Linked DNA regions of Homo sapiens: region 1 is linked to region 2. The links come from fine-mapping of genetic effects on gene expression. Tissue or cell type: whole blood. Region 2 holds a variant in brackets; the other region holds the start of a gene. All regions are shown on one strand. Distances are between the middles of the regions.

Region 1 (6,521 bases), 57 kb after region 2:
ATCCAGAGTTCAATAAAGAGGAGCATGCAAACACATTACACTATAATTATTACATTCATTAATTCATCACACTCATTGGGCAACATGCCAGTCACTGCCCTGAGTGCTCCAAATACAATGCTGGGCAAAAATAGCCATAGTACTGCCTTCAAATAGGTTACTATCTAATTGGATAGATATACATTTAACAGATAAGGAAAGACACACAATATAATAAGAGTACAACAGAGGGACCTGACCTGGTCAGGAAAGTTTTCCTAAAGAAGTGACTGTTGGGTTAAAATCCAAAAGATGAAGAAAAGAGGAAATACAATTCCAGACAGAGGGGAGACAGCTCTAATGTGAGAAAAAGCTTAAAGGTTTTGAGAAACTGAAAGAAAGTTAGCCTAACTAGAAGTTTGAAAGAGAAAGAAAAAATTTGAAGTGTAGTCAGGGCCCAAAAAATATGCAGGGTTTTTGTTTGTGGGTCATGGTGGAGAGTTTAGAGCAACATTAAGGTGATCTTTTGAGCAACATCAAGGTCCCTGGGTGACATGATTGGAACTGCATTTTTAAAAGTTACTCTGGCTTCAATTTGGAGAACAGATTGAAAGGAAAAAACAACGACTCAAGGCAAAACATTTAGGAAACTGTTGCTCCTATCTCTAAGTGAGATATGATGGAATAACAGTACAAACCATACACGGGTTATAGTAAATGAGTGCTGTATCAAGTGTACAAATTACAAGAGTAAAGGCAAAGGTAAGAGATAGGGAAACGTTCTACAGAGGTTATGCCTTTACTGTATCTTAGCACATGAACAGAGGAAACACAATGTATAAAATATTGTAATGTGAAAAAGCACAGCAATTATGTAACTACAAAAAACAGTAATAGTATCCAAGATGAAGCAGTCAAAGTTAGAATAAAGGAGGGAAACAGAACTTCTATTTACTCATATTTATGTTCTCTAAAAATTATGCTATATAAACATCAAATATATAAATTAACAGTAATTCATAAATATATATGAAGTTCATGCTCAATATCTTTTTTTAACTGATAGGGTGTGTATTCAAAAAGTTTGGAGTCCACTGGTCTAAGCTCAAGGTGCCCAGGTGGTGGGGAGAAGAGGTTCCAATATGGAACACTGGAAAAGTAGGCAAGCACCAGGTCATAACGTTTAGACTTTATTCTGTATGCAATTAATAAATATTTAAAAGATTTCATCAGAAGAATAACCTGATCAGGCTTACATTTCGTGTAGACGAATCTAGCACCAAACTCAGGGAGTATGGAGGCCTATGGAAAACAAGATAAAGTAATCGCAAGAGTCTAGACAAGAAGTGATCACAGCCTGAATTAAGTCAGTGGAACTGGAGAGGTGAGGGCAATTTTAAGAACTCAGATCACAAAATTTAGTGATAATTAGAATATGGGATAAAGAGATTAAGACTCTCAGGTTTCTAGCTTAGGAGCAGCACATCTGGTTGAGAAATGGAGGAGAAAAGGGGTGCTTAGTTTTTCAGTGTCTTTTTAAGAGGAGGTAGGATAAGCAGAAGATAAAACTTTGCACACGGATTTTCAAATGTCTCCTGACTATCCCGGATTCTTAGTCAGCTGGATATGCAGGCCTGAAAAAGATACCAGACATCTAGATTGTAGACCGGGACTGAGGAATCATCAGAGTATGGTGAATAGTAAAAGCATTATAGAGCACCAGAACATCCTGTGTCCACGTTTAAAAATGGGAAGCTGGAGGAGCCCAGGATAAAACTAAGCACCCCTTTTCTCTTCCATTTCTTAACCCAGACGTGTTGCCCCTAAGCCAGAAACTTGAGAGTTTTAATAAACACTTATATTTATCCCATGTTCTAATTATCACTAAATTCTATTATCTGGATTCTTAAAATTGCCCTCATCTCTCCAGTTCCGTCTGACTCCTATCAAAACAGAGGGCTGCAGTTGAGTAGTAGGAAAGCAGTTGCTGCACACTGACATTTCACGAGCCTCTTGCTCGTATTTCACCTAAGAACTGCACACATGTAGGAGCAAAGGATCAGGTCCTCCTCTGTCTCCGAGGGTTTGATTATTTCAATTCATCGTTTTAAAACGCTGAAACAGACCAACAGTGTCCTAACCCGTGCCCAGTGATACCCTCCTCAAACCCAGCCTGGGTCAGGGGCTGATTGACTCCAGGAGGCGTCCCTCAGCTACTGTGTATCGGACATCTGCTGGAGGGCTCACAGCCGGCCTCCCGGCTGTGGTCAAATGAGCCTGACTCCTACCTCGATATGACTAGCGGCCACGCTGCCGAAGGACAAGAGCAACACAGTTGCCAAGACAGTCGCAGCCCGGCTGAGGCTGTCGGTGACGGCCATGTTTACCGGCTTCAGACTTCCCGCACCTGAAGGGGCGGAGGCAGTGCCGTAAAGTAGCGCTGCGGGTTTTTGCGACACCATCCGCGCCTCTTCGAGGTGGCCCTCTGGTCCGGCTTTAGAACTCTGCGGTTTTGTGGAGCTCGAGAGTCCGGGACAAGGTAGACGCAGGATATTGACCTTTTTATTTTTAACTGCATTTTCAGTTTGGAGGTTGTAAAATAGGTATAACATTTAAGAAAAAAAATTGAAAGGTGAGTGGAGGGAAAACCCGTAACTCCTTAAACTTTAAAAACTTATTTCTCTGTTCCCTTATTTATTTTATTTATTTATTTATTTATTTATTTATTTATTTTGCCGAGTGCTGCCAATTCTTTGAAAATATGAAGCTGGATGTGGTGGGAAGAACAAGCGTTTTGGCACAAAAAGATGATTAATTGGATAAACTATAAATGGAAAATGTGGGTGGGCGCTGCAATTTAGAGGCTTGGGGTCTACTACCTGGTGAAAGGATTAACATGGGAAGCTAGTTACGTTTTTGTTTCTTGAGTATCTTCTGTAATTATGGAACTAAAGCCTATCTGGAAGAGACACAGCTGGTGTATATGTATGGTCCACCATTCTCTTTATTATGTGAGTTCAGTTTTAATTTATGCATTTCATCTAGTATGACATAAACGTTTCCACGCTGCTTCCTCACAATTTTAACATTTAATGGTGAGATAAAATTCCATCCATTATTGATGCCTCAGCCAAAGTAATTGTCCCTCTGCTGCACAATGCAAAGTTTTTAAGTTTTACTATGAAAATAATATTGTAAAGAGTATCTTTTGTGTGTTTGGCTTTTTAAATCTGTTGAATTATTTTGTTTGTATAATTTTCCTGAACTAGGAATTTGGGGTCAAAATATTCCAAAACATTTTAATAACTATAAATGATGTTGCTTTCCAAAATGAACAAGCTTACAGCACTATCAGAATACACAACACCAAACCATACCATTTTTTTTCCTTTAAATTCTTTGGTATGAAATGTTACCCCTAGGTAACTATACTTATAATTCTTTGGTTACTATCAAGATCTGATGTCTTTCTTGTGTTTCTAAACTATCTCTGTGTCCTCTGATGTAAATTCTTTGTTTATATATTTATGTTTTGCATATGAATTTGAATAATATATTTATAAATAAGTAACATTAGCCTTTGCCATATTTTATGCTATTGCTTTTCCCATTCTCTTGTCTCTCTTTTCCTTTTATTTGTTTCTTTTGCTATTGCACTTTGTGAGAGGTTTCATGCTATTTAGTCAAATTTAGGTTTTCCGTTACGTGAATCCTAGAAAGTAAATACACTGCCAGAATATCTTCCATGTATTCATTAATTCAACAGATATCTATTGGATGCTGATGATTATGAAACAAAGTAGCAAAGATAAGAAGCCATTTGCTCATTCTGCTCCTTTGCCAGCAATATTTCACAAAGCCCCTGACTCATTGACTGTGAGCAGCCTTGTGGAAGAATGCCTTGAAGACCATAAGCAGGATAGGGAATAGGTTTGCACATCTCTTGCCTGAATCACTGAATTTTTACAAAAGGTAAGTTTGGTGATCCTAGCCCTTGCCTCTTCCTGTACATAAGATAATGTCTGACAAGATTAATGATTATGCCTCAAATTCATGACCAGATGTAACTTCATACCCACACTTTGATGAGACTTTACTTGTATTAACCCATTTTCATACTGCTATGAAGAAATACCCAAGACTGCATAATTTCTAAAGAAAAAGGCTTAGTGGACTCACAGTTCCACATGGCTGGGGAAGCCTCACAATCATGGTAGAAGATGAAGAAGGAGCAAAGGCACATCTTACATGGCAGCAGGTGAGAGAGCATGTGCAGAGGAACTACCCTTTATAAAACCATCAGAGGCCAGGTGCAGTGGCTCACACCTGTAATCCTAGCACTTTGGGAGGCCGAGGCAGGCAGATCATCTGAGGTCAGGCATTCAAGACCAGCCTGGCCAACATGGCAAAACCCCATGTTTCAAAATTAGCTCAGTGTGGGGGCACATGCCTGTAATACCAGCTACTAGGGAGGCTGAGGCAGGAGAATCGCTTGAACCTGGGAGGCAGAGGTTGCAGTGAGCCAAGATCACGCTACTGTACTCCAGCCTGGGCAACAGAGCCAGACTTTGTCTCAAAAAATAAAATGAAATAAAATAAAAATAAATAAATAGATAGATAAATAAAACCATCAGAGCTCGTGAGAACTCACTACCATGACAACATGAGGGTAACTGATCCCATAATTAAATTACTTCCCATCAGGTCCCTCCCTTGACACTTGGGGATTATGGGAGCTACAATTCAAGATGAGATTTGGGTTGGGACACAGCCAAACCATATCATTCCACCCTGGCCCCTCCAAAATCTCCTGTCCTCACATTTCAAAAGCAATCATGCCTTACCAGCAGTCCCCCAAAGTCTTAACTCATTTCAGCATTAACTCAAAAGTCTACAGTCCAAAGTCTCATCTGAGACAAGGCAAGTCCCTTCTGCCTATGAGCTTGTAAAATCATAAGCAAGTTAAGTTACTTCCTAAATACAATGGGGGTACAAGCATTGGGTAAATACACCCATTCCAAATGGGAGAAATAGGCCAAAATGAAGGGACTACAGGGCCCATGCAAGTCCAAAATCCAGCAGGGCAGTCAAATCTTAAAGCTCCAAAATGATCTGCTTTGACTCCGTGTCTCACATCCAGTTCACGTTGATACAAGAGGTAGGTTGCCATGGTCTTGGGCAGCTCTGCCCCTGTGGCTTTGCAAGATACAGCCTCCTTCCCAGCTGCTTTAACAGGCTGGCATTGAGTGTCTCTGGCTTTCCCAGGCATATGCTGCAAGCTGTTGGTGGATCTACCATCCTGGGGTCTGGAGGATGGTGGCCCTCTTCTCACAGCTCCACTAGGCACTGCCCCAGTGGGGACTCTGTGTGGGGGATCCCACCCCACATTTCCCTTCTGCATTGCCCTTCTGCCTTAGCAGAGGTCGTGCATGAGGGCCCTGCCCCTGCAGCACACCTCTGCCTGAACATCCGGGTGTTTCCATACATCCTCTGAAATCTAGGCAGGGTTCCCAAACCTCAATTCTTGACTTCCGTGCACCCACAGTCCCAATATCACATGTGAGCAGCCTGAGACTGCACAAAGCAGCAAGGCCCTGGGCCCAGCCCATAAACCCATTTTTCCTCCTTGGCCTCCTGGCTTGTGATGAGAGGGACTTCCAGGAAGACCTCTTACATGCCCTGGAGACATTTTTCCCATTGTCGTGGTAATTAACATGTGGCTTCTTGTTACTTATGCAAATTTCTGCAGCAGGCTTGAATTTCTCCGCAAAAAATGGGTTTTTCTTTTCTATCACGTCATCAGGCTGCAAGTTTTCCTTTTATGCTCTGCTTCCTCTTGAACGCTTTGCCACTTAGAAATTTCTTCCCTCAGGTACCCTAAATCATCTCTCTAAAGTTCAAAGTTCCACAGATAACTAGGGCAGGGGCAAAATGCCACCAGTCTCTTTGCTAAAGCATAGCAAGAGTGACCTTTATTCCATTTCCCAACAAGTTCCTCATCTCCATCTGAGACCACCTCAGCCTGGACTTCTTTGTCCGTATCCCTATTAGCCTTCTGATCAAAGCCATTCAACAAGTCTCTAGGAAGTTCCAAACTTTCCTACATCTTTCTGTCTTCTGAGCCCTCCAAGTCTCTAGGAAGTTCCAGAGTTTCCCACATTTTCCTGTCTTCTTCTGAGCCCTCCAAACTGTTCCAACCTCTGCCTGTTACCCTGTTCCAAAGTTGCTTCAACATTTTCTGTTAACCTTATAGCAGAGCCCCACTACCTCAGTTCCAATTTACTGTATTAGTCCATTTTCATACTACTGTGAAGAAATAGCCAAGACTGGGTAATTTATAAAGAAAAAGAGGTTCAGTGGACTCACAGTTCCACATGGCTGGGGAGGCCTCACAATCGTGACAGAAGGCAAAGGAGGAGCAAAGACACATCTTACCTGGCAGCAAGGCAAGAGAGAGAGCATGTGCGGAGGAACTGCCCTTTATGAAACCATCAGATTTCCTGAGATTTATTCACTATCATGAGACCAGCAGGGGAAAAACT
Region 2 (5,000 bases):
AACAAGCCTTGTCAAATGACTATACTATAAATTGTAGGGCCCACAAAAATATGTAAGAAAAGGTCTCTCTTTTCCAGGAGTTTCCCATTCAGTGAGAAAGACTTACATTCAATTAGTAAGGTCAATAAAAGACTGTGGTAAATGTTACCAAGGAGAAATAAAGGTCTATGGAGGCTCTGAAAAAAAACAAGAAATTCCCACAGGGAAGAATTCGGGGAGACTTCCTGAAGGAGACACAATCTGAGGTGGCCCCTGAAGAATATGTAGAATTTCAAAAGTTGAATCTAAAAAAAGTACATTTCTGGTAAGGAAAAGAAAATGAGTAAATAAAGGAAAACATCAGGCCTCTTGTAGAGAGACAGAGAAATACTAATATACAGGTAAAAGGTAGATATCAAATAGTTTTAAAAGCTATAATTCAACACATAAAACAAGATCCTCTAGGAGTGCAGGGAATAATACACTTCTTTTCACATTAAGGTTAGCATACCTATGTGCTATAATCAAATCAAGTGAATACTTACAAGGTCATTCATATTAGTTTGGCTAGCTGGGTTAATTTCTTCCAAAAATTCCAAGACATAAAATGTGTATCTATCCATAAGATGGACTCCAATTGCAGGATCAGGTTGATGCTATGGAAAGGGGGAAAAAAAGTATTTCTAACAGTATCATTATAACAAAATGTTTTAAATGTAACCAAAATTTCCTTCTAATGTATTAGTCTAAGAAAGAACAGATACATTCATAAAGCATTTAATTGGTTTCAGAAATAGCTGCACATTCCAAAGACACAGTTTACAAATGGGGAAAATGCACATACCGAGAGTGAATCTTCTCCCACTTGACTACTAGCTAGAGCCATTATGTTAGGAGAATAAAATCGTTCATACATGGATGCTCCTTGGCAAGTATCAATAATAAACAGTAGCTCATTGTAGCTGAAAGAAAAATGATAACATCTTTGACAAGGATCATGCTGTAAATCATACACTAATATTTCTACAATACTTTTGTAAGATGTTTAAATCATATCTTAGTCATTTCATTAGCTAAAAGTTTTCAGCAGAATTCCCAACAGAAATTTGACCTCAGAAAAGTTAAAGGTATAAATTTGTCCAAGGAAACCACAGCGAGTCTTATTGTGCCCAAGGTGGCTGCCCCAGCTCTTTTCCCTCTTCCTTGTCTATGCCATATAATTCAGAATCTAAATGAATATTCCATTCAACAAGCACTTATTTGGCACCCATGCTGTCATAGAAATTGAGCTAGGTTCAGAAAAAGAAGTATGACTTAGTAACTATACTCAAAGAGCATAAACTCTAAGTGGAACACAGACAAACATACAACTACATTGGAACGTGATGAGTACTATAAATATATATTGAGTGCCTACAATGTGCCTGATATTATGCTGGAGATGCAATAGTCCCTGCCCTCATATAGCCTAGAGTCTAACAAAATCAAAGTGTTGAATGAACACTGAGAAAGGACTAAGGAGGAACTGCAAAGAAAAGCAGATCAGAGAAAGGTGATGCCCAATACGGACAATGAGGGATGTTATTTTGTTTTACAGAGAAAAGAAGATGACATTCCAGCAGAGAGAAAAGCACATAATGTAAAAAAGTATAAGTGCTTGGGAACAGATCTGTGTAGCTAGGATTTAAAGTAAATTTGGGAGAATGGAGGGAAATTGGTTTCAAAAAGGTAGAATAGGTTCAATTTGTAAAGGATACCATATGAAGTCTGGATCTTATCCTATAAGTTTGGAGAAACCATGAAAGGTTTTTGTTTTTGTTGTTGTTTTAATGAAAGAATAATATAATCAGGTATCCATTGCACAATAAGCTGGCTAGCTGGCAAAAGTTAAAGTAGAGAGGAGACATATTTTCTGGGAAGTTTTTCTCAGACACTGGGTCTAGGTAAACAGCTAACATGGAACCTAGAAAACAAAGCATTGAATCTTGAACCACAGTATCATCGAAGAAAGTGACAGGAGACACAATTAATATGACACATTTGTTCTGTGGCAAAATATGTGGAGGCTCCTATGCATTAGAAACACCCAAAGTTAGGAGAGGTTGTGGAGTAAACAAGAGAGCAAGCTCTAGGACTGAACCATTTGGGCATGAATCCTAGCTGTGTCAAGTTTGGCAAGTTACTACTAGCTGTGTAAAGTTCCACAAGTTATTTAATCTTTCTGTGCCTCAGTTCACTCACTTGTAAAAAGGGAATAATAATAGTATCTACCCCATAGAGTTGTAAAATTAAATGAGACAATAGATGTAAAATACAGTATGCAGCCCCCAGTATGCATTCTATAACTGTAAGCTATGAATAAGACATAATCAGTGCCTAGTAAAAGCTTCCTCAACACTTCCACACATTGCTTATGCTTTTATTTTAACATTACAGTATTTATTTTGTAGCATCATTGTATACATATTTCTCTTTTCCATTAGATTGTAAACACTTTGAAGGCAGAATAAGCATCATATTCCACTTTCTGCCATAGGAATGGAAGATAGCCTATAAGTGTTTATTGAAAGTAATCAAGTTAAAAGTTTTTTCACTTACAGTCATATGCATGACAGCTTCCAACTAAAGAGATGCTTAGC[A/G]AGGGTTACTAACAATCATCCTTAATGTGAGTTGTTACAAATTTTATGCTAATCATAATTTCAGCGATTTTTTTTTCCATAGAAGAAATACGTCTATAACATTAGGGGCCAAAGAATGAGCTAGAAAGAATAGGTACAAGTTGAAAAATAAACAGATGTTCATAATCTCCATAATAATAGCTAACTTGGTTGGAGGGACACTTATTTCCTCTAAAAAAGATGCTAAATAACAAGAGATGGAATCTTAAAAGGTTAACTATTTCATGTTATAGAATAACTCTCAGTTTTTCTTTTAAAAACAACCCAGTTCAGAGGAAATAACAAATGTAAATTTAAAAGAGTCAAAGAAATTGTCAAAATAAGTTAAAAATCTTAAAAAATAAAAATTACAAATCTACGAACCATGTGAAAATTAGGTATGAATATAGCTTATGAAAAGAAGTAATTTGCTAATTACCGTCTTTTCTGCCACATTTGTTCAAAAGCATCCGCGAGTTCTATGTTGGTAATTTCTTCAGAATCTTGAAATTTTAAGAAACCATTTCCACCATGCCCTTGTATAAAGAGTAAAAAAGATCAATAGATTTTTTAATGCAAACTGCATATATCTAGATATATACATTTACTTCATTCATTACATTTTGACATCGCTTGTTATTTTATACTCTAAAATGTATACTATGAAAACAAACAAATTGAATTTTCTACTATGCCAATTAAAAAGAGAATGATAGACTATATAAAATAGCAGATATAATATCTTTAATAGGGTTTCTAATATTCAATTACAGAAACCTATATTTATGCTCTTCCACTGGCTCCATTATTATATCAGAAATGAGTTTCCATTCACAAAATGTTTCAAATACCAGGCAAACATTTTTGATGAGAAAGAAGCTGAAGACATTAGCTAGTCCCACATTTTTACTACAAGAGGTGGAGCAGAAGATTGTGCTATTTGTATGCAATCTAGAGGCAGGTTGCCTGGATTCAAATGGTAACTATGCCATGTTAGTTTAGGAAAATAATTTAATATTTCTATGCTTCAGTTTCCTCAGCCATAAAGTGAGAAATGTATCTGCAACACTATCATTAGCTTACTTATACAGTTGCTTTGCACAGGTTTTTAAAAGGTACTTTCAACTGGGCATGAAAGTAGAAAAAAAAAACTAGTCTCCTCACCTTCCTCTTGGATACATGCAGCCCTGCAGGCTTACAAGTGGTTAGTTGACTATGCCTTTGTGGGAGAAAAAAGTATCCCTCCCTTCCATTAGAATACAACCCTGTGGTAGGGCAGATCGCTTAGTAAGTGTAAGCACATACGAGATTTCAGTTCCCACTTAACACCCTGGCCAGATTCTTGGGTGCACTATACAACCCACACAACCACATACAGCAACCTTGAATATCGGCACCTAAGTCAATGCACTGCTGTGAGAATGAAATGAGTTAATAGCCACAATGATTTAGAATACTGCCTGACGTATACTATGCCTCCATAAATATTATTATCATATTATCATAATTATCAACGTTTTTATTCTCTTACAGACCCTGGCAACCTTCTACAAAAGATCAGGTAGTAAATATTTTTGGCTTGTGAGCCATATTGTCTCTAGCACAACTACTGAACTCTGCTGTGGTAGTATGGAAGCAGTCACAGAAACTGTGTAAACCAAATGGATGCAACTGTGTTTCAATAAAACTTCCAAAACAGGCAGCCAGTTCACAGGCCATAGTTTATCAAATCCTATCTTCAACTACTGGAATTTGTTCCAAGCCTGCAGTTACCCTGAAAGAGTTCCAACAGAATCAGGAAACAAACAAAAAATAATAATAATAAATCCTTTAGTTTAGTACATCAAATAAAGCTAAGCTACAAAAAACTGCACTTCATCTTGTTTGCCATAAAAGCTTGAAAATTCCTTGTAATTTTCAGATAAAGTAAAATAAAATTTTTCCTGGCTTCATTAACTCTATTGAGTTAATTTATAAAGTTTATAAATTAAGCCTTGAAAGTTATAAATAAATGCAACACGATAGAGAAAAGCCACTAAGTAGGGGTCATTAACTATGTTGACATGTGATATCTAAGAATCATTCTGCACCTGCTTTATCATCAGTTGAATGGAATGCCCTCCAAAAAATTTATAGAACATCTTTTGATTAACATCCATATTTACCGAATACTACTACAAGACAGGCAACTGGTGATAAAAAAAAAAAAAAGCAAGAAATATATAATCAATGACATCTTGGAATTCAAAATACAGTGAAGGCAACAGATACCCAAACAATAAAGTAATAGTAAGTTAAATGCTATGAAAGAAACTAAAAATTAACATGGGCATGCACAGAGGAAAGTCCAGACCAGCCAAGGAG

The links. PIP is the estimated chance that this variant, and not a neighbour inherited with it, causes the effect.
Region 1: it holds the start of PIGK, and the variant in region 2 is fine-mapped to the expression of PIGK in whole blood (INTERVAL, PIP above 0.99).

What each region holds. Positions count from the first base shown.
Region 1 is chr1:77,217,043-77,223,563 of GRCh38, forward strand. It overlaps PIGK (phosphatidylinositol glycan anchor biosynthesis class K), which reads right to left and starts at 2,388. Exons shown (of 11, transcript NM_005482.3): 1 at 2,268-2,388. The coding sequence starts at 2,360. LOC105378808 (a long non-coding RNA gene) reads left to right here and starts at 2,478. Exons shown (of 3, transcript XR_001738109.2): 1 at 2,478-2,611; 2 at 3,746-3,951. RefSeq lists an enhancer at 2,072-2,181.
Region 2 is chr1:77,160,771-77,165,770 of GRCh38, forward strand. It overlaps PIGK (phosphatidylinositol glycan anchor biosynthesis class K), which reads right to left. Exons shown (of 11, transcript NM_005482.3): 6 at 3,076-3,172; 7 at 824-941; 8 at 525-635. Among named protein-coding and RNA genes, the nearest start is that of PIGK, 56 kb to the right of the region's middle. The variant A/G (reference allele first, on the strand shown) is at 2,619.